Linked DNA regions of Homo sapiens. The protein of the gene in region 1 purifies or fractionates together with the protein of each later gene. This does not show direct contact. Each region holds a gene or a part of one and is shown in the gene's direction. Other genes may lie near its edges.

Region 1 (7,636 bases):
TTTATTGTCCTTAGGCCACGGTCACCTTCTGGCCTGTCTTCTGGCCTTTGTAGAAGAGAAGCTGGATCGACATGACAGTGTACATTTGAAGTTCTGCTTATTTCCTGCACCAGTATCGACCAAGCCCTGCAGTGTGTTGGGCACAATGCCAGGCACTGAGAGGCCACCATACAGAAACCTGAGTGCCCTGCTGTGTTCAGTGAGCTGATGTCAGGGGAAAAGGGAATCAGACAAGTCAAAGGGAGCCCACTGAATCCCAAGGAGTGATGAGAAGCTGAAGAGATAGAAATTTGGAGGGGCAGAGGCTCATCTCCTGCAGGGATTAGGAGAAGGTTCCTGGATGAGGTGCCTGGAAAAAAGAGCAGTGCTTGGGAAGGGGAAGGCGGGAAGGGAGGGAGAGAAAAGCAGACGGGCAGGTGGGATGTATGCTGTGGGAAGGTAGAGGTGTCTGGGATGGGAGCAGGAGCTGATGAAGAGGGTAGGGAAGGTGGCTGGGAAGGGGGTTGGGACCAGCTGGCGCAGGGGTCTGAAAGTGATTAGCCTTTTGGGTGGGAGATACTTAAGATATTTTAAGCAAGGGTGTGATGAGTTCAAGACTGGGCTGTTGAGAGATGGCTAGCACCAAGCCTGGTCCATGTAAAGTGCTAGAAGCATGTTTGCACAGGGGGAGGGTGGACAGGAGATGGGGAGAGCTAACTATGACCTGTGCCTGTCATGCTTCTTAGCATCACGTCCGAATTCATTTACTGCTCACAACTCCCCACAAGAGACAGATATTATTGTTACTATTATCCTCATGGTACAGAGAAAGAGACGTTGGCCCACCATATGCATGTGGGAGGTGGGGGCCAGGGTGGACAGAAAGCAGCTATGGTTGCTGAGGATTGAGAATGGGGAGTGTAGCTGTGCTGCTGGTGCCGGTGGGACAGCACATGGGCCCAGACCTGCTCTGAGCGCCACCCACACACAGCCAACTGTCTGCTTGATGTGCCCACAGCCCCTCCATCTGGTATGTCCAAACTGAACTCCTGACCTTTGTCTCCTCCTCCCCACACCCCGTTACTAAGCCAGATCTTCCCCCTGTTGTCCACTCCAGTCAAGGCCACCGCCATCTAGTTGGCCATCCAAGCCAGAAGGCTGGGTGGCATCCTGGGTGCCTCAGTCTCCTTGACCACCTACCCCACCTCCCACCCTCTGAATATCCCTCTAATCCATTAACTTCTCTCCCCATCCCCCGTCACCACCTAGTTCAAGCTGCCCTCATCCCTCATTTAGACGGCTCATCTCCTCCTTCTGCTCTGCTCCAGGCAGCAGCCAGAGTCACCATTTAGAAAGGTCAGTCTGCCGCAGGCCTTTCCCTGTCTCGCACACCCTATCCTGAGTGGTATGGCCCCTGCTGACCCCTCTATGTCACCTAGCCCATGGCCCCTCTGAGTCTCTCAGCTTCAACTGCAGAGACTTCTTTTAGATCCAGGTAGGCAGGTGCTTCTCCATTCATTCATTCAGCAAGCGGCAATTCCTTCATTTATACCTGCTGGGTTTAGGGTGTTGAAGCAGACAGGCCTGGCCTCGTCCTCAGGGAGTTCACATTGCGGTGTGGAGGTAAAGTCACAAAATGAATCCACTGGATCTTAGCACATGTTGCTCCTCTGCCTGAAAAAGTTTTTGTTTAAACTTCCACTCATGCGGTGCTTGCTTGGGGCAACCTCTCCTGGATGGCCAGGCTGGGCCTGGCGGCTTTTCTGAACAGTACTGACCTCAGTTGGCAAGGGTAGCTTGTTAGTATGCATGGCCGTCTCCCTCTTCGACAGTAAGCCCCACATGGGCAGGCCCTTGTCTGTCTTGTTCATAGTTGTCCTCCAGGTCCAGGCTAGTAGACCCTTGCTAAATGTCTGTAGAATGAATGATAGGTTTTTTTTTTTTTTTTTTTTTTTAGAAGGAGTATTGCTCTGTCGCCCAGGCTGGAGTGCAGTGACATGATCTTGGCCCAATGCAATCTCCGCCTCCCGGGTTCACGTGATTCTCATGCCTCGGCCTCCTGAGTAGCTGGGATTACAGGAGCAGTGTGCCATAATTTTTTATTGTGGTAAAATATACAAAACATAAAATTTATTATTTAACCATTTTTAAGAATACAGTTCGGTGGCATAAGTACATTCATGTTTTGCATCCATCACCACCATCCATCTCCAGGACTTTTTCATTTTCCCCAGCTAAAACTCTGCACCCATTAAACACCAACCACCAATTCCCTCCTCTCTCCAACAACTGGCAACCACCATTCTACTTTCTGAATCTATGACTTTGACTACTACAGGTACCTCACATAAGCGAAATCATACTTTTGTCCTCTGTGACTGCCTTATTTTGTTTAGCATAATGTCCTCAGGGGTCGTCCATGTTGTAGCATGTCAGAACATCCTTCCTTTTTAAAAATTTATTTATTTTGAGACAGAGTCTCACTCTGTCACTCAGCTGGAGTGCAGTGGCAGGATCATGGCTCACTGCAGCCTCAACCTCCGAGGCTCAACTGATTCTCCCACCTCAGCCTCCCAGGTAGCTGGGACTACAGGCATGCGCCACCACACCCAGCTAATTTTAAAAATTTTTTGTAGAGAAGGGGGTCTCACTGTGTTTCGTAGGCTGGTCTCAAGTGATCCTCCCACCTTGGCCTCTCAAAGTGCTGGGATTAGGTGTGAGTCATAGTGTGTGGCCTCTAGAGCACTAACTTTAAAAAGCTACAATTACAAATCCTTCCTCTGTCCCTCTGAGATATATACCTATGTATTTCCTACAACCTAGGAATGTCTTTCTCAAGGACCTGAAATCCATTCCTTTGGAATGTAATCATCATAAAGGTAGGGCTCATGTCTCCCAGTCTATGTGGGAGAATAGAATCCTAACTTCCCTAATTGCCAGCTAGCAGACACAGTTGGCCTAATCACATTTACGCTAAGCACTCCTTTTAATTTTTCACTTCCCAGACTCTAAGTGAGCCCCTGCATGCTCCCCTGCCTACTCCCTTATTCTTCCTTTGGAATGCCCAATCACCCCTGCGCAAATGGAATGGAGTTCAGCTGCTTCCCCTACTGTCAGTAGTTACTGAATAAAATCTATTTTCATCATTTTAATGCCTGGCTTTGTTTATCTTTAATAATATCATTAACTAGAGTTCAATCTTTATTTATGGTTCTTTTTGTTTGGTTTTCTAGTGAAGATGAAATTGCTTTGAGTAAAATGTGCAAATACTAAATGTACCATTAGATAATTTTGACAAATTCATACACCCAAATCTCCTATCAAGATATATATCAAGGATGAGGAGAAATTTGAACCCCTGTGGATTGCTAATGGGAATGTAAAATGGTTCAGCTTGCTGTAAAAAATGGTGTGGTGGTTTCTCAATACATTAAACTAGAATTAGCATATGATCCAGCAATTTCACTTCTGAGTGTATACCCAAATGAATTAAAAAGAAAGCAGGGACTCAAACAGATATTCGTACACCCATGTTCATAGCCGAATTATTCACAATAGCCAAAAGATGGAAGCTATCCGTGTCCATGACTGCATGAATGGATAAACAAATTGTGGTGTATACATATAATGGAATATTATTTGGCCATAAAAAGGAAAGAGGCCAGGCACGATGGCGCACACCTGTAATAACGGCATTTTGGGAGGCCAACGTGGGTGAATTGCTTGAGCCGAGGAGTTCAAGACCGGTCTGGGGAACATAGTGACACCCTGTCTCTGAAAAAAAATAAAATAGGATTAGCCAGGCATGGACGTGTGTGCCTGTAGTTGGGAGGATGGCTTGAGCCCAGGAAGTCTAGGCAGCAGTGAGCACCATTGCACCACTGCACTCCAAGCTGGGTGGCAGGGCGAGACCCTGTCTCAAAAAAAAAAAAAAAAAAAAAAAAGGAAAAAAAGGAAGCGCTCTGGGAAAGGGAGGCTTTGGCTGGAACAAATGGTGAATTCTTTTGGCACCCCTGAGCTTTCTTGGGCAGGCATTTTAAAGGGGCCTAGGCCCACCTAGAGATCCGCCCTTAGGCTGTTAACTTAGCATGATGCCATGTTAGAGTTTAGTCAAGTCTCTTAGTGCAGTGGTTAGGGTAGTCGTTAAATGCTGAGGAGTCTTTGTAGTTCTCAATTAGCAGGCGAGTTTTTAGGGATGAAAGGTACTGATAATTTACTTTGAATGTATCAAAAAATAGGATGGATTGCTGGATGCAGAGACGGCATGTGATAAAGCGGATACAGCAAATGTTACTGGTAGAGAGTCTGTCACCCAGTCATTAGAACATGAGCTCCAGGAGGGCAGGGACTTTGTTGGCCTGGCACATAGGCGGTCAACAAATATTTGCAGAATGAACGAACAATACTTGTAACGGCCTTAGGACAAACAAGTGCACAAAAAGAGGAAGCTTTCCCTGACTCTGTTGTGGCGGGGATCCGGACGGTGGAACGGACGCACAGAAAGTGCGCGGAGCCTGGCGGAGTCGCTCTGGCCTCCTGGAGCCTCTGCTCTATGGCGGGTCCTCCCGGGGCTGCGGAACCTCTCTGGCCGCTCGTGGCGTCCGCTCTATGGCCGTCCTTTGGGGACGCAGGAGCATGCGCAGAACTGCTCCCGGCCCGGATCGCTATGGCAGCGGCGTCGTCGCGGGCCGGGCCCCAGCAATCCCGCCCGGGCCCGGCTGCCTCAACAGCCGCCCCCACTGCCCCCTCTCGGGCATGAACCGAGCTTCTTGTTGCCGCCCGCTGCCCTACCCGCCGCTGCCGCCGCATCCCGACTCTGGGCCAGCGCTGGGAACATGCCCCTGGCCGCCTACTGCTACCTGCGGGTCGTGGGCAAGGGGAGCTATGGAGAGGTGACGCTTGTGAAGCACCGGCGGGACGGCAAGCAGGTCTGCAGGGGTGGGGCCCGGCAAGGGGCGGGGGCGGGCAGAAGTGCGCCGAGGGCGCCGACCGGTAGATTAGGTCGGGGGTGGTCGCAAGAGGCTCATCTCGGATGGCGTTTCCTCAGGGAAATGGTCCCAGACCAAGACGAGGCCTGGCCTCCCTGTAATATGCGCCCAGAACTACTTCTACTTCTTTGTTGTGTTAAATTTTTTTCCTTTTAATTTTCATTTTCTTTAATTACAATTCTAAGTTTTATGTAAAAATTTTCAGTCTCTGCCTATCTACTTCTTTGTTGTACTAATTGGCATGCGTGATCTACACACCTTTCTCCCAACCCCGATACTCTCATGAGAGCCGGTATCATGCATTCCCAGGACTTAATACAGCGCCTAGCAAGCATTATTCCTTGAATGAAGGGCCCCAAACGTCTCTACTGTAGACTGCTGGATTCACTTAAAACTCGACTCATTTTCTTCCCGCCAAACCTTCTCTCATGTCTTCCGTTTCAGTGAATAGTGACACCAACCCACCAGTTGCCCAAGCCGGACACCTGGAGTCATTTTTAAGCCTCCCCACGCACCCCAACACTGATTATATTCATCTATCACTAAGACAATAGGCCTCCTCTCATCTCTACTGCTACCACCCCAATCCAGGACACCCTGTTGTCTCTAGCAAAGCTATGGCCACGGTTTCCCAACTGGTCGCCGCCACTTGACTTGCTTTTCTCCAATCCATCACTTTCACTGCAGCCTCAGTGATCTTTCTCAAATTTAAATCTGATGTTGTCACTCCTCTGTTTAAAACACTTTATCCCATTACTCTCAGGATAATGAACCAATTATTCAATGTGGTTTATTAATAGGGTGACAATATAATGTACAAACTGGGACAATTTTGAAACTGAAAGGCATTATTAATAGTTACACCAGGACAGTAGGACTGCTCCAGGCAAGCTGAGAAGAGATGTTCCCCCTAAATATAGGGCCCAATTGCCTGTTCTTCCTTGTCTCTGGTGCTAGTTGCTTTGCGTGGAACACAAGCTCATGCATAAGAAATTTATTCAGTAGGCATTGGGGGAATCATTGGATTTTGGGGCTGATGATAGGGAACTAGCAATAGCTAGTTATTTGAGCTTTAGTTTACACTTCACAAAACACATTTATCTATGTGTTGAAGAAATGAATTGTATGGTCTTTGAAATGATTGAGGGCAATGTATTAGGTATTAGAGGCTATTGATTTCTTTTAAGTGTGAATAATTTTGTATGCTGAAGATCAGTGACTATTAAACTTATGGGGCCATGGATCCCTTTGAGTATCTAACGTAATCCACAGACTATTCTGTCTGCAAATGTATAGTCAAGCTATATTTTATTCACCTTTTTGGGAGAGCTTAGATATTAAGGAATTTCTTTTTTTATTTTTTATTTTTTTTGAGACAGAGTCTTGCTCTGCCTCCCAGGCTGGAGTGCAGTGGTGCGATGTTGGCTCACTGCTGCAACTACTGCCTCCCAGGTTCAAGCAATTCTCCTGTGTCAGCCTCCCGAGTTGCTGGGACTATGGGTACACACCACCACGCCGGGCTAATTTTTGTATTTTTAGTAGAGACAGGTTTCACCATGTTGACCAGGCTGGTCTTGAACTCCTGACCTCAGGTGATCCACCCGCCTCACCCTCCCAAAGTGCTGGGATTACAGGTGTGAGCCACTGTGTATGGCCAGATATTAAGGAATTGCTAACACAGGTTTTATAATTGATCCAATGGTATGTTATCTTGAACTCACTTTTTTTAGTCATTAATGAAATTGTGAAATGCAGATGGGAAAGGTAATTTTTGTGGCCCTACACTGCTATAAATCTAACTTATAAGAAGTATCAATAATAGCAAATATTTTCCCCGATTTTGTGCTTGGTGAAAAACAAAATGAATAGGTTATCTGACAGGCTCCACAAGGTTGGTTTTGAGGGTATTCTTGAGAGCCCTTAGATAACTCTGAGGCCACAAATCTTACGTTTATTTGCACATTGTAAAAATACATGGTTTGTTTTTAGTATGTCATCAAAAAACTGAACCTCCGAAATGCCTCTAGCCGAGAGCGGCGAGCTGCTGAACAGGAAGCCCAGCTCTTGTCTCAGTTGAAGCATCCCAACATTGTCACCTACAAGGAGTCATGGGAAGGAGGAGATGGTCTGCTCTACATTGTCATGGGCTTCTGTGAAGGAGGTGATTTGTACCGAAAGCTCAAGGAGCAGAAAGGGCAGCTTCTGCCTGAGAATCAGGTGGTAGAGTGGTTTGTACAGATCGCCATGGCTTTGCAGGTACTGTGTAGACTAATAGCATCCTAGCTTGTTCCCAGATGGCAAGAAGATGGCAGGTGTATTTTAGGAAAATTTTTCTTCAGATACTTACATATAGAAATGTATTTTTTGGAAAATTCATTTGTGAAGTTGACCCAGTCACTCTTTCTGTAGCATTGGAACTTTTCTAAGTAAGTGATACCTATATTAAAATAGACATAGATTTCATGTCTGATTGCAGGGGAAGCCCACTCAATTACCATTTATAGCAAAGTCAATTTTAAGGACCCTGAGGCAACCAAGAGCATAGAGTGACTATGTTTGTTATCCATTGGTCAGTCGTGTCATGCTGAAAGGTGGCTAGGCTAATTGATATGCCCAGTGATTTCATCTGTCAGTCTGCTGGGGTACAGTAGATGGGAATGCAAAACAAG
Region 2 (7,023 bases), on another chromosome or scaffold:
AGAAAATACTGAGTTCTCCTGATTGAATTTTGTCCCCTTCTTGTATAAGGAAAGAGTTGATGTAGTTTCCTGGGTGTAGATGGTTTGAGAGATGGTACTGCCTATCCCTAAAATGAACCAGGCAGCCCTCACACTTCCCCACCAGCAGTGAGAGATTCCTGGCTCAGACACAGCCACACTACCTTGCTGCCCCTGTGCATGTCTGCCAGGAAACTTTTCATTGTGCCTCTCTCTCTTGTCACGTAGCCCTGCGTTCTGAACTCACGGTGGCTGCTGCAGTCCTGGTGCTGTTGGTGATTGTGATCATCTCACTTATTGTCCTGGTTGTCATTTGGAAACAGGTAGATATTTTCTCATAAAACTAAAGATCTTTGAAGCCAATGAGAACAAGCATAGCAACCTAGTTCAGTGCTTGGCACAGAGAAGGAGCTCAGCAATTACATGTGGAGTGAACGTTGTTGGACTCTACTGTGTCCAGTCACTGTGCTGCTTCAGTGAAGCTCTGGTGCACTGGGACTTTGGTAATTCACCAGTTACCTGTCCTGGTCATTTATAGAAACCGAGGTATGAAATTCGCTGGAGGGTCATTGAATCAATCAGCCCAGATGGACATGAATATATTTATGTGGACCCGATGCAGCTGCCTTATGACTCAAGATGGGAGTTTCCAAGAGATGGACTAGTGCTTGGTAAGTTCCATGGGGTAACCTCCCAAGACTCCCTTTTCCCTTGCACACAACTTTACAATTTATAGGCCTTGGCAGAATAGAGATCTGAGCTTGTGCTTAGTAAGAACTAGGCAATGGAAATTTGCTTTCAGAAATACATTTCTGTCTTGACAGTAAGTTAATTGGATCATTGCAATGATTTTTTTAAATCTCTTTCCATAACAAATTATAGTTAAGGAAAATTTTACAAAGGGAGAAGAGAATATGAAGAGGGCTGGCAAAGATACCCACCAAAATTGCTTTTCTTTAGAAATGACACAAATTGAAAATGAATTTCTGTGACTAAAAATGAGCAGATGAGAAATGAATGAGGACAACCACAAAATGTATTTTGATTCAGTACATTCTGAAGATGCATTAGATACTCCTTTTTACATATTTGGAATATGGAATATAAAAATATAGGTACATTTTGAGGCAAAATATGTAAAAATAAGCAAGCCAACTTATCACAAGCATTTCAAGTATTTCAATCCTGGGCTGAGACCAAGTATATGAAGCTTTAGTCCAAGGGAGTATTTCTTTTTTAAATCACATTCCTAATGAATGAAAGCAAGACAAAGGCAAATGAAAGTAGAGGTAGAGGTTGTGTTATGATGAATGATCTAACAGTATATATGTTAAAGAATGCCAAATGCAGGTTTTAATTATCCACCGGTCTCATTGCAAAATACAGAAGAGTTTAAGTCTTCTTAGAGAGTTAGGTAAACTGAAATCAAGCAAGGCACCAGAGTGAAATCACCTTTGCAAAAATTGTAACTGAGGAAATTATGACAGTGAATGAGATATGACCTAACCAACTCCATTTTGCTTTAGCCTCCAAGTTGTCCTTGTTCCTTCCTGGGCATAGGCCGAACTAACTTTGAGAGGAACTTAGTTTATAGTTTGACTTTGAAAAAAAGACAATAATAGCCCTTTGCCAAAACAAACCCTCTTTTTCCCTGGGAACTAGACTGCCTTTGCGGGACTAACGAATTAGCTACAAGATTAGAAAGTATGGTTTAGGGGTCACTGTTGTAAAACCTGAGGTCAGTGCTTGAGATATTTTGGAGACCCTGTATTTCGATGCACCAGCTGACACCACCCAGGTCAATAAACTGGCTCATCTGATCTTGGGGCCCCTACCTAGGAACTGACTCAGTGCAAGAGGACAGCATCAGCTCCCTATAATTTCATCTTTGACCCAACCAATCAGCACTCCCCTTTTCACCCCCTACCCACCAAATCATCCTTAAAAACCCCATTCCCCCAGTTTCAGAGACACTGATTTGAGTAATAGCAGAATAGTAGAAATTCCCCCAGTTTCAGAGACACTGATTCGAGTAATAGTAGTAATAGTAGAATAGGTCTCCCGTACAGCTGGCTCTGTGTGAATTAAACCCTTTTTCTATTGCAATTCCCCTGTCTTGGTAAATCGGCTCTGTCTAGGCAGCGGACAAGGAGAATCCATGGGGCGGTTATAAGAGCTGCCCCCCAATTTCAAATATTTATATCTAAGCTTTCTTTATTTTCCTGCCTATTTCCCAACAAGGGATGAGGAGCTTAGGGAGTTAAAAAGTAGTAAAATATGGGGAAAAGGGCATAATTCCCATTATACCAAGAGGCATTGCTGGTGAAGCAATACCTTTCCAGGTACGATTTTCAGTAACACAGACGTGCAGTAAGAGGCAGTGTTGGCTGTTAGTGTCTTTTATGAGCCAAGTCTTTTCCTGGCTTGGCTATCCGTGGTGAGACTGACACCCCGGGAAATGTTTCTCTCAGGGTGAGCTCTTTCAGGGTGGGACAACAGCTTCAGTGTCTTTACGTATGTCTCCTCCCAACATGAAGCTAATTGCTGTGCTCTCGGGCATGTTTAGCTCTTGGTAGAGTGGCTTTCCTAACAAATAGGGAGCAGTGAGCCCAGCCTGAAGTTTTTATTTAGTCACTCCTTAGAATCAGTGATATTTTGAATACTGAAGTATTTCCAGTGGCTAGTAATTTACTAAGACAAAAGATGCCCCTGTTTGCATATGGAAAACAGAAGGGGAGAGAGCCAGGAGGTGTGGGTGAGAGCCCCGAAGGCAAGAGGATCCCAGGGGCTGGCCCAGCACGGAGCTGGTAGACAGCGCGCTCACACCAGGGAGGGCTGCACCCTCCTTTCTCCCGTCTGTGTTTTCTTTCCCTTGCAAGTGTTATTCGACAAAAGCAATTATGCTAATTTCCTTCCCTGTGGGCTCAATTCCTTTTTTGACACGATGACTTGGAGGAGTCATTATGATTACTCCAAACAGGAAAGACACTCGCCCAGCTGTCCGCCCGCAGAGAGCTGGCTACGGTGCAGAAAGCTGAGGAGGCGTCTGGAGTTTTTGGGTGTTAATGATTCTGCCTGCCCACAGGTCGGGTCTTGGGGTCTGGAGCGTTTGGGAAGGTGGTTGAAGGAACAGCCTATGGATTAAGCCGGTCCCAACCTGTCATGAAAGTTGCAGTGAAGATGCTAAAACGTAAGTGCTCCTTCCTGGGGATTTTTTGAGCACGGGGATTTTTTGAGCATGGGGATATTAAGGGAATTTCTCAAAATCATGCAGCTAGTAAATAAGACATTTAGGACTAGGTCCTGATTATTTTGACTCCAGGTTTTATGTGTATTTAGATTAGGTTTATTTAGATTGCTCTTGCTGCCTGTATGTTGGAAAATTAAGAGCTTGTTATTTCCAGTGACTTCTTTTTACTAGAAAGACCAGGAATTAGTTATTAGCACTGAGGCCAAGTAGCTATCTGCTTCTTTTAGACTTCTGGTAAATAGAATGATATCCAATCACAGGATTAGTCATATTCTTGGTTTTTTTCTGAGAACAGGAAGTTGGTAGCTCAGCTGGACTGATATGTGATTTATTCTTTCAACAGCCACGGCCAGATCCAGTGAAAAACAAGCTCTCATGTCTGAACTGAAGATAATGACTCACCTGGGGCCACATTTGAACATTGTAAACTTGCTGGGAGCCTGCACCAAGTCAGGTGGGCTCACTGACCTGGAGTGAGGATTTTCACTGGACACATGTGGTTGTGAAAACTGTTCAATCAGGCTTAAATCCTCCACTCTCCATCCCCACACATGGCAGGGAATAGAAGTCCCTTGAATGGAGCTGACTGGTCCCTTGAATTGATGGAAGCTCATTGGTTTTTGAGCAAAATCTGTTGCCAGTCCAGTCATAGCCATTCATGGCTCTTTATTAAAAAAAAAAAAAAAAAAAAAAAAAAAAAACTTTTTTGGTATCTTATTTTTTTCTGTGCCATATGGTCTGCAGGACAATTCATGGCTTTTCTGTTCTTCATTTTCATACCCATCTCCTAACGGCTTTTGTCCCCATAGGCCCCATTTACATCATCACAGAGTATTGCTTCTATGGAGATTTGGTCAACTATTTGCATAAGAATAGGGATAGCTTCCTGAGCCACCACCCAGAGAAGCCAAAGAAAGAGCTGGATATCTTTGGATTGAACCCTGCTGATGAAAGCACACGGAGGTGGGTGCAAAGAGAGATGTTGCTGTCTATCATTATCTTACAGGCATCACAAATGGAAAGACCCATGTCCTGATAGATATCATGTCTGCAGATTCAGTGCCCAAGGTAGCAAGACTTAGAGTCAAACCACCCTGTCCAGTCTTTCCATGGTCATGCAGAGAGATGCATGATGTCTAAAGGTGTTTTGGACTGGGGTGTCACATGGGAAGGCCTTGCTGATAGGTTTGAATGAGAGTGAGTTAGAATGACTCTGGGAGCTCTTCTGCTATTTACATGTGATCCACTTAGACCTATAAAATGCAGCTCTGGCCAGGGATGCTTGAGTTCTGGAACCTTGCAAGAACTGTCTGTGGATCTCCAAGCTCGAGGTCCTTGCTGAACCTGGACCTATAAATGACGTCAATGATAGTGATCCCTACTGCAGAAATCTACAAGTGGCTATAAAGAACTCTGTAGGTAAGAAATTCTGTAAGATCAGAAAGTACAATGAATTCACTTCATAATAAATTACTTGGTGGACACCAAATGGGTGCTAAATTGATTGGGTAGAAGGAATTGTATGCCCAAGCCACATGGCCACACGGCTCAAGTTCCAACCAAGGCTTGTGAGTTGAAAAACTGAGAAAGAATAATGACAGACTTAACGTAGTGAATTCTTCAAACTTTAAGTGTAATGGACTTACAGGTCCATGGGAGCACAGCCCCACTGTCTTAGATGTGGCTCTTCAGGATGTGCGGGCTCCTGCTAAGGATGTGCAGGGAACTGGCTCTGAAAACAAGTGAACAGTAGTCATCATGGCAGCTGACATTTGTGGAGTCCTTTGTATGTGCCAGGTGCCATGACAAATATTCCGCTAGTCTTTCCCATCTTTGTCAGTGGGATCCATTCTACGTCTTCTGAAAAGTGCTTCCTTGACCCCCAGATCAAGTCATTTTCCTTACAAGCTATTGAAACCTTTCTTCCTTCACAACACAGCTGAGTTTGAGTTGATCTGTGTATTTATTTTGTTTTTTACATTTCTTTTTTTCCCTATTTAAAAAATTTTTTTATTTCCATAGGTTTTTGGGGAACAAGTGGTATTTGGTTACATGAGTAAATTCTTCAGTGGTGATTTGTGAGATTTTGGTGCACCCATCACTGGAGCAGTATACACTGAACCCAGTTTGTAGTCTTTTATCCCTCACCTGCCTCTCAATTTTTCCCCGAGTCCCCAAGTCCATTGTGTCATTCTTATGCCTTTGCATCCTCATAGCTTAGCTCTCACTTATGAGTGAGAACGTACGATGTTTGGTTTCCATTTCTGAGTTACTTCACTTAGAATAATAGTCTCTAATCCCATCCAGGTTGCTGCAAAAGCCATTAATTCATTCCTTTTTATAGCTGAGTTACATATATATATATATATATGCACACCTACACATACATATGTATAGATACACTGCAGTTTCTTTATCCACTCCTTGATTGATGGGCATTTGGGGTTGGTTCCACATTTTTTCAATATGTGAATTGTGCTGCTATAAACATGTGTGTGCAAGTATCTTTTTAGTATGACTTCCTTTCCTCTGGTAGATACCCAGTAGTGGAATTGCTGTGATGCATGTATTTGTGCGACTATTTGATTAATGCTCATTTCCTTGACTAGATCACCTCATGTGAAAGGTATGGATTGGTTTTGCTTTTACCCAGTTAGCTCCCATGCCTACCTCAGTACCTGGCACATAATCATCATCTACTGAAAGTGGAATGACCACTTCAGAAGGGCACCCTGGGTAAGATTTCTCTTTCTGTTTTTACAGCTATGTTATTTTATCTTTTGAAAACAATGGTGACTACATGGACATGAAGCAGGCTGATACTACACAGTATGTCCCCATGCTAGAAAGGAAAGAGGTTTCTAAATATTCCGACATCCAGAGATCACTCTATGATCGTCCAGCCTCATATAAGAAGAAATCTATGTTAGGTAAAAGTGTCTATACTCACTCTGGGTGTTGGGACTTTCCAGTGGTTTAATATGATACTTAAAGTATTTAGAGGGAAGTGTATAGGGATGGTAAGTGAACCTGGCAGCCCACGTGGTCTCTAAATGCAGGTCTGCACAACCAGTTCTGTGACATGTTTCCAGGTTTGTGGCCTGTAAATTGAAAAGAATAAAAGCTGACAATGTAACAAATTTTTTAAACTTTAAATTTAATAGTTTTAAAGAATTTTCTTGGTGTGTTCCTGCAGTAAACATTTTTTAAAAAAAATAATTATTTATTCTGATATAATGAACTTCCTTTTTTATTGCTGTCTTTTTCTTTTTTAATGAAAATATGGTGATTGATTTTTTTTAATGCCCTTACTTGGCAGAATTACAAGTTGGCTGTCTTATGTTGGTTCCTCACCTTGCTTTTTTTCCCTTAAGTTTTAGAAGTCTCTGATGTCTATGAGTTCAGTAACCCTTGCTTTTACTTTTCCTAACATTCAATTTGTGATAGGAACTCTAGAGTAGATAATTTGCAGTTATATTTTCTGGACCAGTGTTTCTGTTGAATGTATTTTGAAGGTGGGTCTATCTGTTTTTCAAGTACATGAATATGTGGCAGGGTTAAATTGATTTATAAACTCCAGGGAGTCCAGCTGATGCCCAGACCAGATGGATCACTTCACATCTGCTCAGGGTGGTTCCTCCAGAGCCCTGAACTGGTCACAGACATGAAGCTGGAAGTCTGACATTGGCTTGTCCTGTGAGCTTGCCTTTTTGGGTCTGAGCCTTCCCATTAGTCAATGCAAAAAAGTGTTGAGC
Region 3 (7,023 bases), on another chromosome or scaffold:
TCTGTCGCCCTGGCTGGAGTACAGTGGTGTGATCTGGGATCACTGCAACCTTCGCCCCTGGGCCCAAGCAATCCTCCCATCTCAGCCTCCCAAGTAGCTGGGACAACTGGTGCACCATCATGCCCATCTATTTTTTTGTTTGTTTGTTTTTTGGGGTTTTTTTTTTTTTTGTATTTTTAGTAGAGACAGGGTCTTGCCATATTGCCCAGGCTGGTTTTGAACTTCTGAGCTCAAGCGATCCTCCTGTCTCAACTTCCCAAAGTGCTGGGATTACAGGTGTGAGCCACAGTGCCCAGCCTAGTGTATGTTATTTTGATTTTAACATTGCACTTGTATATTTTTAATGTCCATATTGTATACTGTAGACCCTACTCAAAGAATAAATCTGGAACTATTCATGAAAAACCCCTCCAGTAATCACCTAAATTCTTGAATGTTAGAAGCACTTGATAGGACTCTAGCTTTGTACTTGATCACATTTACTCATGTGTTCCTCTGAAAATCATTACATCACAGGTTAACCACCTTTTTAGTTTGCCCTAAAATTTTCTCCTATGCATAAGCCCAATGAACACGGAGAAATGGTAAATTTGTATTATGTTCAGTGAAAGGTTATTCTTTTTAATTCTAAAAAGGTGGGCAAGCTGATTATCATTTATAATTTAAAGGTTATATTTGATAAAGAAGGAGATCGTCCTTCTGTGGTGATCATTTCTTCAAATAGAGTAAATTTTAAAAATCACTTTAAGAATCCAATAGAGAACAACAAAGCCATATTGAGATGCAGGTTTTAGGAATTTGGTAGTAATCCCTCACAAGGTCAGACTTGATCTCCTGGACAATCAGGGCATGCTAGTCAGCTTTCATGACTCAGCAAAGCTACAAATTATGTATTTTGGCTTTTTGTGGAAATTGCCAACCCTACAGATAGCAAACGTCTCCTCGGTTGTCAAAAAGTAAGAGTAGTTTTTAGAATTCTGCCTTTGGGTCTTGTAGAATGAAATATTTACAAGATTTGCTATTTGTTAACATTTTAGCTACTTCCTTGTTCCTTCAGTCTTGCTGCTGTGCACACCACCATACCAGGAATATGAGGGAGAAAGCTAGCAAGACAGCTAAATAATTGGAAATTCTGCTTGGAGGTTAGACTGTGTTGTAAAATGGTACAGACAGTGCCTGGGCATTTTCATTGATAGAATCCTTGGAGTCGTTTGGGGTTCGTTGTCAAATGATGTCTGGCAGTGCAGCAGCATGATAGGAAGTGAAGAAGGAATGCTTATTTGCAGAGGAAGGATGACTTTTTTTTGGTTTGAGGCATGTCAAACTGATGGTAAAACCTTTTTTATCCCTAAGTTTAGTTTTTAATGTTGCTGCATAATTAAATTGGGTTTTTAAAAGTAGATCATTGGATTTGGAGGCAAAGGACTTAAGGTCTGGGCCCCGTTTACTAGCTTTGGCTTCCCTGGACTTTTTGGATATTAAAGAGTCAAATGAGATTATGAATAAGCTTCTTTCTTGGGGCCTGTGGGGAGGTGTTGGGAAGTAACTCATCTCTGAAAATTGTTGGCAGCAGTGGAATTGGCATGGAATTTTCAACAGAAGGCAGATGTAGCTAGTTGTCTAAAGTAGAAAATAGAAGATGGTAAAGGTTAGAATGGAAGTTTGTCTCGTTCCTTCTTGGGAGTGCTGTATCATCTATAGTCATCATCCTGCCATGTCACTTGTCAGTGTGCCTGTTTGTGTGTCTCGGTGGTCTGGTTACCATAGTGCACTTGTACAGCATCAAACCACAGAACCTGGTGATGTTAGTCACGCCTCTATAACCTGTACTTTTGTTATTCAGAAATATGACTTCTAAGTGTTTTCTGGTCTAGTGCTTGGTGGTCCCTCCTCATTAATCTTGTTTTTCAGAAACTCTCTGGCATCCTTGCTTGTTTATTCTGTTTAAACTTTTAACATCAAATTGTTTAGCTTCCCCGCTCTGCTGCAACAACCATCCTGATAATCATAATCATTTTTTATTGAAATCACTTTCAGTTGAACTCTCCTGTACAAGAACGTGATGTGTATCTCTTCCTGTTCCCTTTTCTTTTTTTTTTTTTTGAGACAGTCTTGCCCTGTCACCCAGACTGGAGTGTAGTGGCGCAATTGTATTTTTAGTAGAGATGGGGTTTCATCATGTTGCCCAGGCTGGTCTCAAACTCCTGACCTCAAGTGATCTGCCTACCTCGGCCTCCCAAAGTGCTAGGATTATAGGTGTGAGCCACCGTGCCCTGCCCCACTTTTTATTTTTGTTTTTATTTTTGAAATGGGGTCTCACTCTGTCACCCAGGCTGGAGTGCAGTGGCGCGATCTCTGTTCACTGCAACCTCCACCTCCCGGGTTCAAGTGATTCTCCTGCCTCAGCCTCCCAAGTAGCTGGGACTACAGGCTCATGCCACCACACCCAGCTAGTTTTTGTATTTTTAGTAGAGACAGAATTTCGCCATGATGACCAGGACCTCAGGTGATCCACCTGCCTCAGCCTCCCAAAGTGCTGGGATTATAGGCATGAGCCACTGCATGCATCCTAAAATAGTATGACTTTAACAAAGGATATTTGGTAAGATGGTTCTTAGAACACTGGCATTTTACAGTATACTTAGCATTTATTTTAAATTTATTATTATTATGTTTAAGAGACAGGATGTCCTTCTGTCTCCCAGGCTGGAGTGCAGTGGCTGGATCATTAATGAGGAGGGACTGCCCCTGCAGGCTCCAAATCCTGGGCTCAAGGGATCGTCCTGCCTCAACTAGCCTAGTTTATGTTTTAATTTTTTGTCTCCCTATGTTGCTGTTTTGAACTGGCCTCCCAAAGCTCTGACCCTATATTTAGCTTTTTTAAATTTTTTTATTTTTTTCTTATTGAGATGGAGTCTCGCTGTGTCGCCCAGGCTGGAGTGCAGTGGTGTGATCTTGGTTCACTGCAGCCTCCGCCTCCCAGGTTCAAGTGATTCTCCTGCCGCAGCCTCCTAAGTAGCTGGGACTACAGGCGCGTGCCACCACACCTGGCTAATTTTTGTATTTTTAGTAGAGATGGGGTTTCACCATATTGGCCAGGCTGGTCTTGAACTCCTGACCTTGTGATCCGCCTGCCTTGGCCTCCCAAAGTGCTGGGATTACAGGTGTGAGCCACTGCACCTGGCCTACTTAGCATTTTTAATGCGTTGAAAAATCCTGCATTAAAAAAACTATTGGTCCCATTGTGAGGAACACTTGAATATATGTGCATACATAACATACCTTCTTGGATCTCAAACTTTAGCACACACACAAGAATTGCCTGGAGGGCTTGTTAGGACTACAGATGCTGGATCTTGCCTGCCTTGTTTCTGGCAGGAATGGAAGTGGGGCCCAAGAATATGTGTTCCTAACAAGTTTCCTGAAGCTGCTGGTCCAGAACCACACTTAGAGAATCATTGGTTAAGGTAATGGTTTAACTTTGTTTAATGAGTAAATTTAGGAGAGTAACATAGGAAAAGAACCTGTCTACCAGATTTTCTATAAGTGAACCGGCCAGGATTGTTCTTTACAAGAAGAGTGACCATTGTAAAATCTAAGCAAAAATTGCAGGTTGGGCGTGTGAAGTTGGATGTATTTTTCCTACACATTGAAGGCTCAGAAACATTCTTTGTGCTTATTCTCAATACCTTTTGCATTACCTAGTCCATAGGCTTATAGTGTAATATTGAATGAGCCAGTTTTGCATTTTAGTGAGATGTGAGACTTGTTGGTATGTGTGTGAAGCACGGAATTGAGCCACTTGACTTTGCTGGCTGGGTGTTAACTGGTTGATGTTGGGTTTTATGTTGATCTTGGACCCTCCCCCCTTCCCTGTTACGATCATGTCTGGGGAGCACTCCAGGGTGAGCCTGTTCTGTAGGAGCCCTCTGGGCATTCTGTACCTTTTTCACCAGAGGCAGAGTCTGAAAGTGGGCAATAGTTGCAGAATATACCTGGCACTGTTTTGAGGGCCTCAGTTCTGTTGCTCTTATATATGCCATTGTTTACCAGTTCCAGTACACCTTCCTCATGGAAGTTTCTCACATACTACTTGGGAATAGCTAGCTTTCCTAATGCGGTTTAGGGCACTAGGGACAGTGGCACTTTGGATTTGCAGTGAGTGGTAGAAATAAGGTTTTGAAATTAAGTCAAGGAACATAATGCTGCAGGGTGTACCTCCATAATTTTTAAGAAAATGTATTTCTTTTGTGCTTTATTTATAGGTATTTCAGAGAGATGGGAATGATTTGCACATGACATATAAAATAGGACTTGTTGAAGCTCTATGTGGATTTCAGTTCACATTTAAGCACCTTGATGGACGTCAGATTGTGGTGAAATACCCCCCTGGCAAAGTAATTGAACCAGGTAAATCTTGATTTTGTCCGATTCTGGTTTTCAAGTATTTTTGAAAAAAATTACAATTTGTAATTTTTTTATACTGCATAACTCTAAAAAAAATTGAACACCTCTTTTGGGTAAAATTATTAATCATTTCCTCTTAAATAATAGGGTGTGTTCGTGTAGTTCGAGGTGAAGGGATGCCGCAGTATCGTAATCCCTTTGAAAAAGGTGATCTTTACATAAAGTTTGATGTGCAGTTTCCTGAAAACAACTGGATCAACCCAGACAAGCTTTCTGTAAGTGTTCTTTAAATTAAACAACAGTTGACTTCCAAGTTTGGAGTTCGGTTTTTGGTTTTTTAGACAGGGTCTCTGTCACCCAGGCTGGGGTGTAGTGGTGTGATCGTGGCTCACTGCAGCCTCGACCTCCTGGGCTGAAGCGATCCTCTCACCTCAGCCCCCAAGGAGCTGGGACTACAGGTGTGTGTTGCCATGCCTGGCTAATTTAAAAAAAATTTTTTGAGACACAGTCTCACTGTGTCACCCAAGCTGGAGTGCAGTGGTGTAGTCTCGGCTCACTGTACCCCCCGCCTCCCAGGTTCAAGTGATTCTCATGCCTTAGCCACCCAAGTAGCTGGGATTACAGGCATGAGCCACGATGCCTGGTAAGTTTGTTGTTGTTGTTGTTTGTTTGTTTATGGGGTTTTTTTGTTTGTTTGTTTTTGTTTTTTTTTTTGAGATGGAGTCTTGCTCTGTCACCCAGGCTTGAGTGCAGTGGCACGATCTCAGCTCACTGCAAGCTCCACCTCCTGGGTTCATGCCATTCTCCTGCCTCAGCCTCCCAAGTAGCTGGGACTGCAGGCACCCGCCACCACGCCCCGCTAATTTTGTTTTTGTATTTTTAGTTAGAGACAGGGTTTCACCATGTTAGCCATGTTAGATCGATGGTCTCGATCTCCTGACCTCATGATCCACCTGCCTCGGCCTCCCAAAGTGCTGGGATTACAGGCGTGAGCCACTGCACCCAGCCAAGTTTCTTTCTTTTTAAGAGAGTCTCGCTCTGTTGCCCAGGCTGGCGTGCAGTGGCATGATCATGGCTTGCTACGGGTGTGTACCACCACACCTGGCTAATGCTTTTTAAAACTTTTTATAGAGATGTTGCTATGTTGTCCAGACTGGTCTCAAGCAATCCTCCTGCCTCCCGAAGTTCTGGGATTGCAGTCGTGAGCCACTGCACCCAGCCGACTTCAAGTTTCTTAATAGTCATGTTACTTTCAATTTTAAAGTATATTTGTGTGATTGGTAGGCTTTCCTAGTTGTTAGGAAATGGGGTATTGCTGGTGTAAATGTTGATGGGGCCAAGCAGGGAATTGTAGAGGAGTAAAGTAGACCCGGTGTGGGTGGTGATGAGGAGTAGCACTCCCTGGAGAGAACAGGTTCCTCATTTGCAGAGGGCAGGACCACTACCCCTTTATCGTAAGCTGGTGTCCATGCCGGATGCAGGAAGGTGTGTCTCCTGTAGAAACTTTCTAATGTTTAAGTATTGGCAGATAATGACCTTTTTTTTGGTTCTTAAAGCAATAGATGGGTTGCACAAAAGATGTCTGCAGAATTTGGCCTGTGAGTGATGAGTTTGTGATCTTTTACTTAGAGTTCAAAGTCCAGTCCACATTCCTTTTTTTAACTTTTTTTTTTTTGAGATGGAGTCTTGCTCTGTCACCCAGGCTGGAGTGCAGTGGCACAATCTCAGCTTACTGCAACTTCCACCTCCCAGGTTCAAGCGATTCTCCTGCCTCAGCCTTCTGACTAGCTAGGATTACAGGTACCCACCACCATGCCTGGCTAATTTTTTGTATTTTTAGTAGAGACAAGGCTTCACCATGTTGTCCAGGCTGGTCTCATCTCCTGACCTCATTATCCGCCCGCCTCAGCCTTCCAAAGTGCTGGGTGGGATTATAAGCATGAACCACCACACCCAGCCCCTTTTTAAACTCTTAAACAGACACTGGATTCTATGTATCAAAAGGAAAGTTGATGAAAATATTACAACCAACCTGGTTTTTGTTTGTTTTAATAAAGGAACTAGAAGATCTTCTGCCATCTAGACCGGAAGTTCCTAACATAATTGGAGAAACAGAGGAGGTAGAGCTTCAGGAATTTGATAGCACTCGAGGCTCAGGAGGTGGTCAGAGGCGTGAAGCCTATAATGATAGCTCTGATGAAGAAAGCAGCAGCCATCATGGACCTGGAGTGCAGTGTGCCCATCAGTAAACTCTGCAAACAAATTGCACAGGTGGATTTTCTTTCCACATTTGCCTGATTTGTTCTCAGCAATCCAGCTGGAGTGTCTTATCAATCCAGATGAACTGAGGGACATCTGTTGGTCTATGTATAACTTTTAAAATTGGTATAGTATCTACAGAGTGTATAATTTAAACTAACCACAAAGCTTTACATCTTCATTTTGACTGTTCCATAGCAGAATAAAGCACTTGAAAGGAAACAAGACTCCCTTTCACACATGGATTATTATAAGTTTCAATCCTGGTATCTGTGCTTGATTTTTATCAGTTTTGTGTAGATTTTTATGTTTCATATTTTAAATTTAAATCCCACATTGTAAAGTTTGTACAATTTG
Region 4 (6,873 bases), on another chromosome or scaffold:
TATGGCTTGGAATTAGTTCTCCAGTTTGCCCCACAATTCTGTAAGCTGCCTAATACCCTTAACAAATCCCTCCTCTGCTTAAGCCAGCCAATGTAAAATCTGTTATCTGTAAGTCAAGACTTCTGACTGAGCCATTCACTAATACAGAGGATGCTACGGTCAACAGCTCTAGAAAAAATTTTCTCTGGGCTCTTTTCCGAACACCGTGTTTCTCAAACTCTAGCCATTCATTCACTACCTTCCAAAAAATTTGCCATATATTCATACCACACATAATAGTTTTTATTTTATTTTTGAGACAGAGTCTCGCTCTGTCACCCAGGCTGGAGTACAATGGCGTGATATCGGCTCACTGCAACCTCCGCCTCCTGGGTTCAAGCGATTCTCCTGCTTCAGCCTCCTGAGTAGCTGAGACTACAGGCGTGCACCATGCCCAGGTAATTTTGTATTTTTAGTAAAGACGGGATTTCACCATGTTGGCCAGGCTGGTCTCGAACTCCTGGCCTCAAGTGATCCGCCTGCCTCGACCTCCCAAAGTGCTGGGATTATAGGTGTGAGCCATTGTGCCCAGTGCATCCATAATATTATCTACCAAACAATATTCTTTTAAGTTGATCTGTTTTTTTAAAAACTTGATTATTATGCCAGTTTTTTTTCAAGCTAATACACATTAAAATAAATATAGCACCACAAAAATATAAACCATTAATTCAAATACCACCCCCAAAAACTCATAACTTGCTAGTGGCCAATAGTGTCTTAGGATAAATTCCTAGGAGTACAGTGACTTAGGTACAGAGTAGAAACAGAAAACCCTTTTAGGCTGGGCACAGTGGCTCATGCCTGTAATCCCAGCATTTTGAGAGGCCAAGGTGGGCAGACGGCTTGGGCCCCGGTATTGGGAGACCAGCCTGGCCAACATGGCGAAACCCCATCTCTACAAAAAATACAAAAATTAGCCAGGTGTGGTGGTGTATGCTTGTAATCCCAGCTATTTGGGAGGCTGAGGTAGATTGAGCTTGGGAGGCTGAAGCTGCAGTGAGCTGTGACTGCCCTACTATGCTCCAGCCTAGGAGACCCAGCAAGGCTCTGTCAAAAAAACAAAAACAAAATCTGTTTATACTACACATGATACCAGCCTTTCCTAAGCAGAACTGATTAACTGGAGGGCCAGGAAGAGAGAAGTCTTAGCAAGTTCCTCACTTTATCTGAGCAGTAAAATGAGAGTTAAATTATAGTACAGTCTGGCTGGGCATGGTGGCTCACACCTATAATCCCAGCATTTTGGGAGGCCAAGGTGGGTGGATCACTTGAGGTCAGGAGTTCAAGACCAGCCTGGCCAATATGGTGAAACCCCGTCTCTATTAAAAATACAAAAATTAGCTGGGCGTGGTGGCAGGCGCCTGTAATCCCAGCTACTCGGGAGGCTGAGGCAGGAGAATCGCTTGAACCTGGGAGATGGAGGTTGCAGTGAGCCGAGATCGTGTCACTGCACTCCAGCTGGGCAACAGAGTGTGACTCTGTCTCAAAAAAAAAAAAAAAAAAAAAAGGACAGTGCGGTGTGCACACTTTTTGGGGTTTAGTGGTGGTGGATTCCTTAATCACCCTGACCGTCAGTTTTCACACCTGCAAAATGGAGGAAATAATAGTTCCTACTACCCAGGGTAGCACTGGGAGCGCTGATTGTGAAACAATAGGAATGCCTGAACATCATAAAGCTCTAGTTCAGAGTTTCCTAAACTCCTCTGAGTTTTCATTTGAAAAAAAATTTTTTTTTTTGGAGACGGAGTCTCGCTGTGTCGCCCAGGGTGGAGTGCAGTGGCACCATCTCAGCTCACTGCAAGCTCCGCCTCCCGGGTGCAAACAATTATCCTGCCTCAGCCTCCTGAGTAGCTGGTACTACAGGTGCACACTGCCACGCCCAGCTAATTTTTTGTATTTTAGTAGAGACAGAGTTTCACCGTGTTGCCCAGGCTGTTCTCGAACTCCTGAACTCAAGCAATCCACCCGCCCGGCCTCCCAAAGTGCTAGGATTACAGGTGTGAGCCACCACGCCTGGCCAAAATATTTTTATAGAGATGGGGTCTTTCTTGGCTGAGCGTGGTAGCTCACGCCTGTAGTCCCAGCACTTTGGGAGGCCACAATGGGCGGATCACTTGAGGTCTGGAGTTCGAGAGCCGTCTGGCCAACGAGGTGAAACCCCATCTGTACTAAAAATACTAAAATTAGCCAGGCGTGGTGGCACATGCCTGTAGTCCCAGCTACTCAGGAGGCTGAGGTGGGAGAATTGCTTCAACCCAGGAGGTGGAGGTTGCAGTGAGCCGAGATCGCCCCATTGCACTCCAGCCTGGGCGACAGAGTGAGACTCTGTCTCCAAAAAAAAAAAAAAAAAAAAAAAAAAGATGGGGTCTTTCTCTGTCACTCACGGTGGGGTGCAGTGTCATGATCATACCTCACCACAGCCTTGAACTCCTGAGCTCAGGCGATCCTCCTGCCTCGGCCTCCTGAGTAGGAGGGGCTATAGCTGCATGCTACTGTGCCTGGCTAATTTTAAATTTTTTTTTGTAGAGATAGGGTCTCCTAATCTGCCCAGGCTGGTCTTGAACTCCTGGCTTCAAACCGTCCTCCCACCTCAGCCTCCCAAACTGCTGGGACTATAGGCTGGCACTATAGCCACCGTGCCCAGCCTCTTCTCAGTTTTAGAAGAGTGTTTGTTATATAGCTTCCCAGTCTGTGCATAGACCCCACGGAATCATAACCTCCAGGGGAGGAATTAGGGAATCTATTTGAAACAAACACTGTCCACTGAGTCTCAGGATCTGATGAGTTCCGAAACATTAGCCAGGGTTAAGCAGCCATAATTAACACTTTGGAGTGCCCTGTGGAAGCTGCCATGAGATGATGGATGTGAAAGTTAAGGGACATTGACTACCCTTGCACCCATTCATTCAACATTCACTGCATGCTCCACCCTGTTAGGTGCTGGGGACACCGACAGATTAAAGGAGACTCAGGCTCCCCTTAAAGGCTCCCCTAGCTGGCTCCTCATCCTTGGCTCCTCATCTGCAAAATTAGATGGGTGGGGCGATGCCCAACGGAACTGCTCCTTAGGCTGCTGAGGGACTACAGGGGTGGGCAGCGAAGCTGTCTGTCTTGTGGGCTCTGGCCCTGTGAGGTCTAGCAGTACAGGGTCCCCGCAAGCTGCCTGACCTCACAGGGCCCAACACTGACTCCTACCCAGTTCATCTCCTCTCAGGGCTAGATGTCAGGCTCTCCCTATGAAGTGGATACTACTATTCCCATTTTACAGATTAGAAAACAAAGTCTCAGCGAAGAGGGAGGTCACACTTCACCCCATCCCCGAAAGGCGTCCAGGACCTGGTCCCCTACCTCCAGCTGCGGCAGAGGCGGCCAGATATCTCGCAAGACCCGCGTAGCGAGTCGGACTCCGGGGGACTCGGGGTCTCTCTCTGCCGGGCCCAGGAGGAGGTTCCTGAGCAGTCGGAGCCGCAGCTGCCTCCCGGAGCCCGAGCCCCTCCCTCCGGGTCCGGCCTAGCCCGCCTGACTCCCACTCTGATCACCTCCACAGCCCGCCGACCTGAGAACTACTACGCCCATGAGCCTTCGCGGCGCCGGTGATTTAGGGGACGCTCCTCAGTGCCCCCTGCGACCGCCAGAGAGAACTACGTTGCCCCTCAGCCCGAGAGGCGCGAGTGGTGGAAAACCTCTCCATCATACTCCGCCCTCGAGACACCAGCCCCCTCCATGACGTCTTCAGCCGCGCGCCCGACGTCGGCTGAGACGGCCATAGACACTGGCGGCTAGAGGGGCCCGGACTTGCCCTCCCAGCTCTAACTTCCGCCGGAAGTGCCTTCCAGCCGCAGGCGCCCTTCTTCTTCTGTGCGCTCGGGCTCCTGGTCCCGGCTCCCCGGTTACCGGGGCGCGAGTATGACCACAATGGCGGCCGCCACCCTGCTGCGCGCGACGCCCCACTTCAGCGGTGAGTGGTCAGGGAGGGCGATGGCGGCCCAGGAACACTTTGGGGGAGTGGTAGGTGGCTGGGTTCGGTCTGACCCCTTCCCTGCCTGACTCCAAGCTTCGGTCCCGGCAGGTCTCGCCGCCGGCCGGACCTTCCTGCTGCAGGGTCTGTTGCGGCTGCTGAAAGCCCCGGCATTGCCTCTCTTGTGCCGCGGCCTGGCCGTGGAGGCCAAGAAGACTTACGTGCGCGACAAGCCACATGTGAATGTGGGTACCATCGGCCATGTGGACCACGGGAAGACCACGCTGACTGCAGCCATCACGAAGAGTGAGTGGGGTTGGGGCGTCCAGCAGCGCCCTATCTACTGATGGGACCTGGAGCCAGGGAGGCAAGGCCAGCAGAGTGTCTGCTGGAGGAGTTTACTGTGGCCCCAAGAGCCCGAATTTGTGCGACAGGTGGATTGGGAGATGCAAGAGACAAATTTCTCCTGAACAGGAAGAACTTTGTGATCCACCAATGGCTTGGGGATCACAAAGTCGTGGGGAATGCTCTGCAAGCAGAGGCTGTACCCTAAAGAAGTCACAGGGCAGACCCTTAAGGCCCTCTAACATTTCTTTCTGACCCACAGTTCTCTCTGCTGGAAGAGTTAGAGATTGGAGGAGGTTATGTATTTAGGTGGGAGGGTTCAGGGGCGTGGTCTAAGCTCTGCCTCTAGCACTGGAACTTTAGCTGAGAGGTGTGTTCTTTTCCTCCTTTAGTTCTAGCTGAGGGAGGTGGGGCTAAGTTCAAGAAGTACGAGGAGATTGACAATGCCCCGGAGGAGCGAGCTCGGGGTATCACCATCAATGCGGCTCATGTGGAGTATAGCACTGCCGCCCGCCACTACGCCCACACAGACTGCCCGGGTCATGCAGATTATGTTAAGGTGAGGGTTGCTGGGACACTGGAGACAGGGCCAGAAGCTGCCTCTTGTCAGGATAAATGTTAGGCTTGTGGGGAGGAGATTAAGATATTCAGTGTTTGGGTATGAGATGGCAGGTTTGTGGTCTTGGCCACGCAGAATGGGTGGTGAGGAGATGGTAGAGAAAGGTGGGCCTGAGTTTCTAACTGCTACACTTGGCTATATGGATGTGAACTGAAGAGCTCGTTGAACTTGGCTGTTTCCTTTCCTTCTCCTCTCCAGAATATGATCACAGGCACTGCACCCCTCGACGGCTGCATCCTGGTGGTAGCAGCCAATGACGGCCCCATGCCCCAGACCCGAGAGCACTTATTACTGGCCAGACAGGTACTCAGAGCCTGGGTAAGGATGCAAAAGGGAAGAGTGGGGAGTTGGGCCCCTCTGTATATTGTCCCTGTCTCTCTGGCATCTACAGATTGGGGTGGAGCATGTGGTGGTGTATGTGAACAAGGCTGACGCTGTCCAGGACTCTGAGATGGTGGAACTGGTGGAACTGGAGATCCGGGAGCTGCTCACCGAGTTTGGCTATAAAGGGGAGGAGACCCCAGTCATCGTAGGCTCTGCTCTCTGTGCCCTTGAGGTGAACGCGGGGTCAGGCAGGGCAGCTGCTGCAGAGGGTGGGGCTGGATGGGCACCCAGAGCTCTGCTTTGTGTCTGGGAAGTGGCTCTTGATAATCGAGGGAAGTAGAATGGGGATTTCAGAGTCCTGGCACTTCCCCTCAACAGGGTCGGGACCCTGAGTTAGGCCTGAAGTCTGTGCAGAAGCTACTGGATGCTGTGGACACTTACATCCCAGTGCCCGCCCGGGACCTGGAGAAGCCTTTCCTGCTGCCTGTGGAGGCGGTGTACTCCGTCCCTGGTGAGGACTCTGTCTGTTCCCACGCACTCTCTCTAGCAGAAGCCTAGCTCGGGGTCCCTGATATCCTGTCTTATTCCCTCCCAGGCCGTGGCACCGTGGTGACAGGTACACTAGAGCGTGGCATTTTAAAGAAGGGAGACGAGTGTGAGCTCCTAGGACATAGCAAGAACATCCGCACTGTGGTGACAGGTTTGGGAAGCCAGTCTGGAGAGCAGGGCCTGGCTGAAGGGTGGCCTTACCCCGGCAGATCCCTTGTGCCTTCCCTCTGTCTCACATTCGCCTTCCTTCTCCCTGCTCCTTTTCCCTTTCCGTCCTAGGCATTGAGATGTTCCACAAGAGCCTGGAGAGGGCCGAGGCCGGAGATAACCTCGGGGCCCTGGTCCGAGGCTTGAAGCGGGAGGACTTGCGGCGGGGCCTGGTCATGGTCAAGCCAGGTTCCATCAAGCCCCACCAGAAGGTGGAGGCCCAGGTGAGGGCTCCAGGTGACGGTGGGCAGGGTTGAGCCAAGCTCTCCCCAGCCTCCAGCCAAGCCCAGCTCACCGTCATTGCTTGCTCTCCTCCAGGTTTACATCCTCAGCAAGGAGGAAGGTGGCCGCCACAAGCCCTTTGTGTCCCACTTCATGCCTGTCATGTTCTCCCTGACTTGGGACATGGCCTGTCGGATTATCCTGCCCCCAGAGAAGGTACGGTGGGTGGGAGGAATGTAGGGTGGAGGGGGGACTTTTTATATTACCTTTGCTTCACTCATAGTTCCAAAGATACACTGTGACAACCCGAGTGGCTTTATTTCCTTAGGTGGAAAGGGGCTGCTTGCCGCTGCTAGCCAACAGAAGGGGCATGGCCCATGGACTTAGGGGCGGGAGTCCTCATCCAGTGTGCCCTAAGCTGAAGCAGGTTAAAAGTTTAGCTCTGCCAGCATGTACCCACAGAAAGATTTCCTAGAAAAGGTCTCTTCTTTTTGAGCGTTTCATTATATATGAAGGCTTAAGAAGTTCTGTGACCAAGAAACCTGCATAACCCACAACTTCCTAGACATTTTTTTCTCAAGAACATACCTTAGGAACACTCATCACT

Evidence for each region.
Region 2: the proteins of NEK4 (region 1) and PDGFRA purify together in Homo sapiens (affinity purification with mass spectrometry; 2 studies listed by BioGRID and IntAct, with this or other methods). This does not show direct contact.
Region 3: the proteins of NEK4 (region 1) and DNAJA2 purify together in Homo sapiens (affinity purification with mass spectrometry; 2 studies listed by BioGRID and IntAct, with this or other methods). This does not show direct contact.
Region 4: the proteins of NEK4 (region 1) and TUFM purify together in Homo sapiens (affinity purification with mass spectrometry; 2 studies listed by BioGRID and IntAct, with this or other methods). This does not show direct contact.

What each region holds. Positions count from the first base shown.
Region 1 is NC_000003.12:52,767,925-52,775,560, reverse strand, and holds the start of NEK4 (serine/threonine-protein kinase Nek4), read left to right. Parts: upstream 1-4,620; 5' UTR 4,621-4,814; coding exon 4,815-4,907; intron 4,908-6,956; coding exon 6,957-7,223; intron 7,224-7,636. UniProt on the Homo sapiens protein: Protein kinase that seems to act exclusively upon threonine residues. Required for normal entry into proliferative arrest after a limited number of cell divisions, also called replicative senescence.
Region 2 is NC_000004.12:54,274,285-54,281,307, forward strand, and holds part of PDGFRA (platelet-derived growth factor receptor alpha isoform 1 precursor), read left to right. Parts: intron 1-246; coding exon 247-341; intron 342-556; coding exon 557-689; intron 690-3,103; coding exon 3,104-3,208; intron 3,209-3,611; coding exon 3,612-3,722; intron 3,723-4,077; coding exon 4,078-4,231; intron 4,232-6,031; coding exon 6,032-6,198; intron 6,199-7,023. UniProt on the Homo sapiens protein: Tyrosine-protein kinase that acts as a cell-surface receptor for PDGFA, PDGFB and PDGFC and plays an essential role in the regulation of embryonic development, cell proliferation, survival and chemotaxis.
Region 3 is NC_000016.10:46,956,662-46,963,684, reverse strand, and holds part of DNAJA2 (dnaJ homolog subfamily A member 2), read left to right. Parts: intron 1-4,265; coding exon 4,266-4,410; intron 4,411-4,554; coding exon 4,555-4,682; intron 4,683-6,464; coding exon 6,465-6,656; 3' UTR 6,657-7,023. UniProt on the Homo sapiens protein: Co-chaperone of Hsc70. Stimulates ATP hydrolysis and the folding of unfolded proteins mediated by HSPA1A/B (in vitro).
Region 4 is NC_000016.10:28,843,345-28,850,217, reverse strand, and holds the start of TUFM (elongation factor Tu, mitochondrial isoform 1 precursor), read left to right. Parts: upstream 1-3,869; 5' UTR 3,870-3,948; coding exon 3,949-4,000; intron 4,001-4,111; coding exon 4,112-4,306; intron 4,307-4,737; coding exon 4,738-4,904; intron 4,905-5,162; coding exon 5,163-5,267; intron 5,268-5,355; coding exon 5,356-5,520; intron 5,521-5,666; coding exon 5,667-5,799; intron 5,800-5,883; coding exon 5,884-5,988; intron 5,989-6,116; coding exon 6,117-6,268; exon of another isoform or gene 6,269-6,299; intron 6,300-6,362; coding exon 6,363-6,482; intron 6,483-6,873. UniProt on the Homo sapiens protein: GTP hydrolase that promotes the GTP-dependent binding of aminoacyl-tRNA to the A-site of ribosomes during protein biosynthesis. Also plays a role in the regulation of autophagy and innate immunity.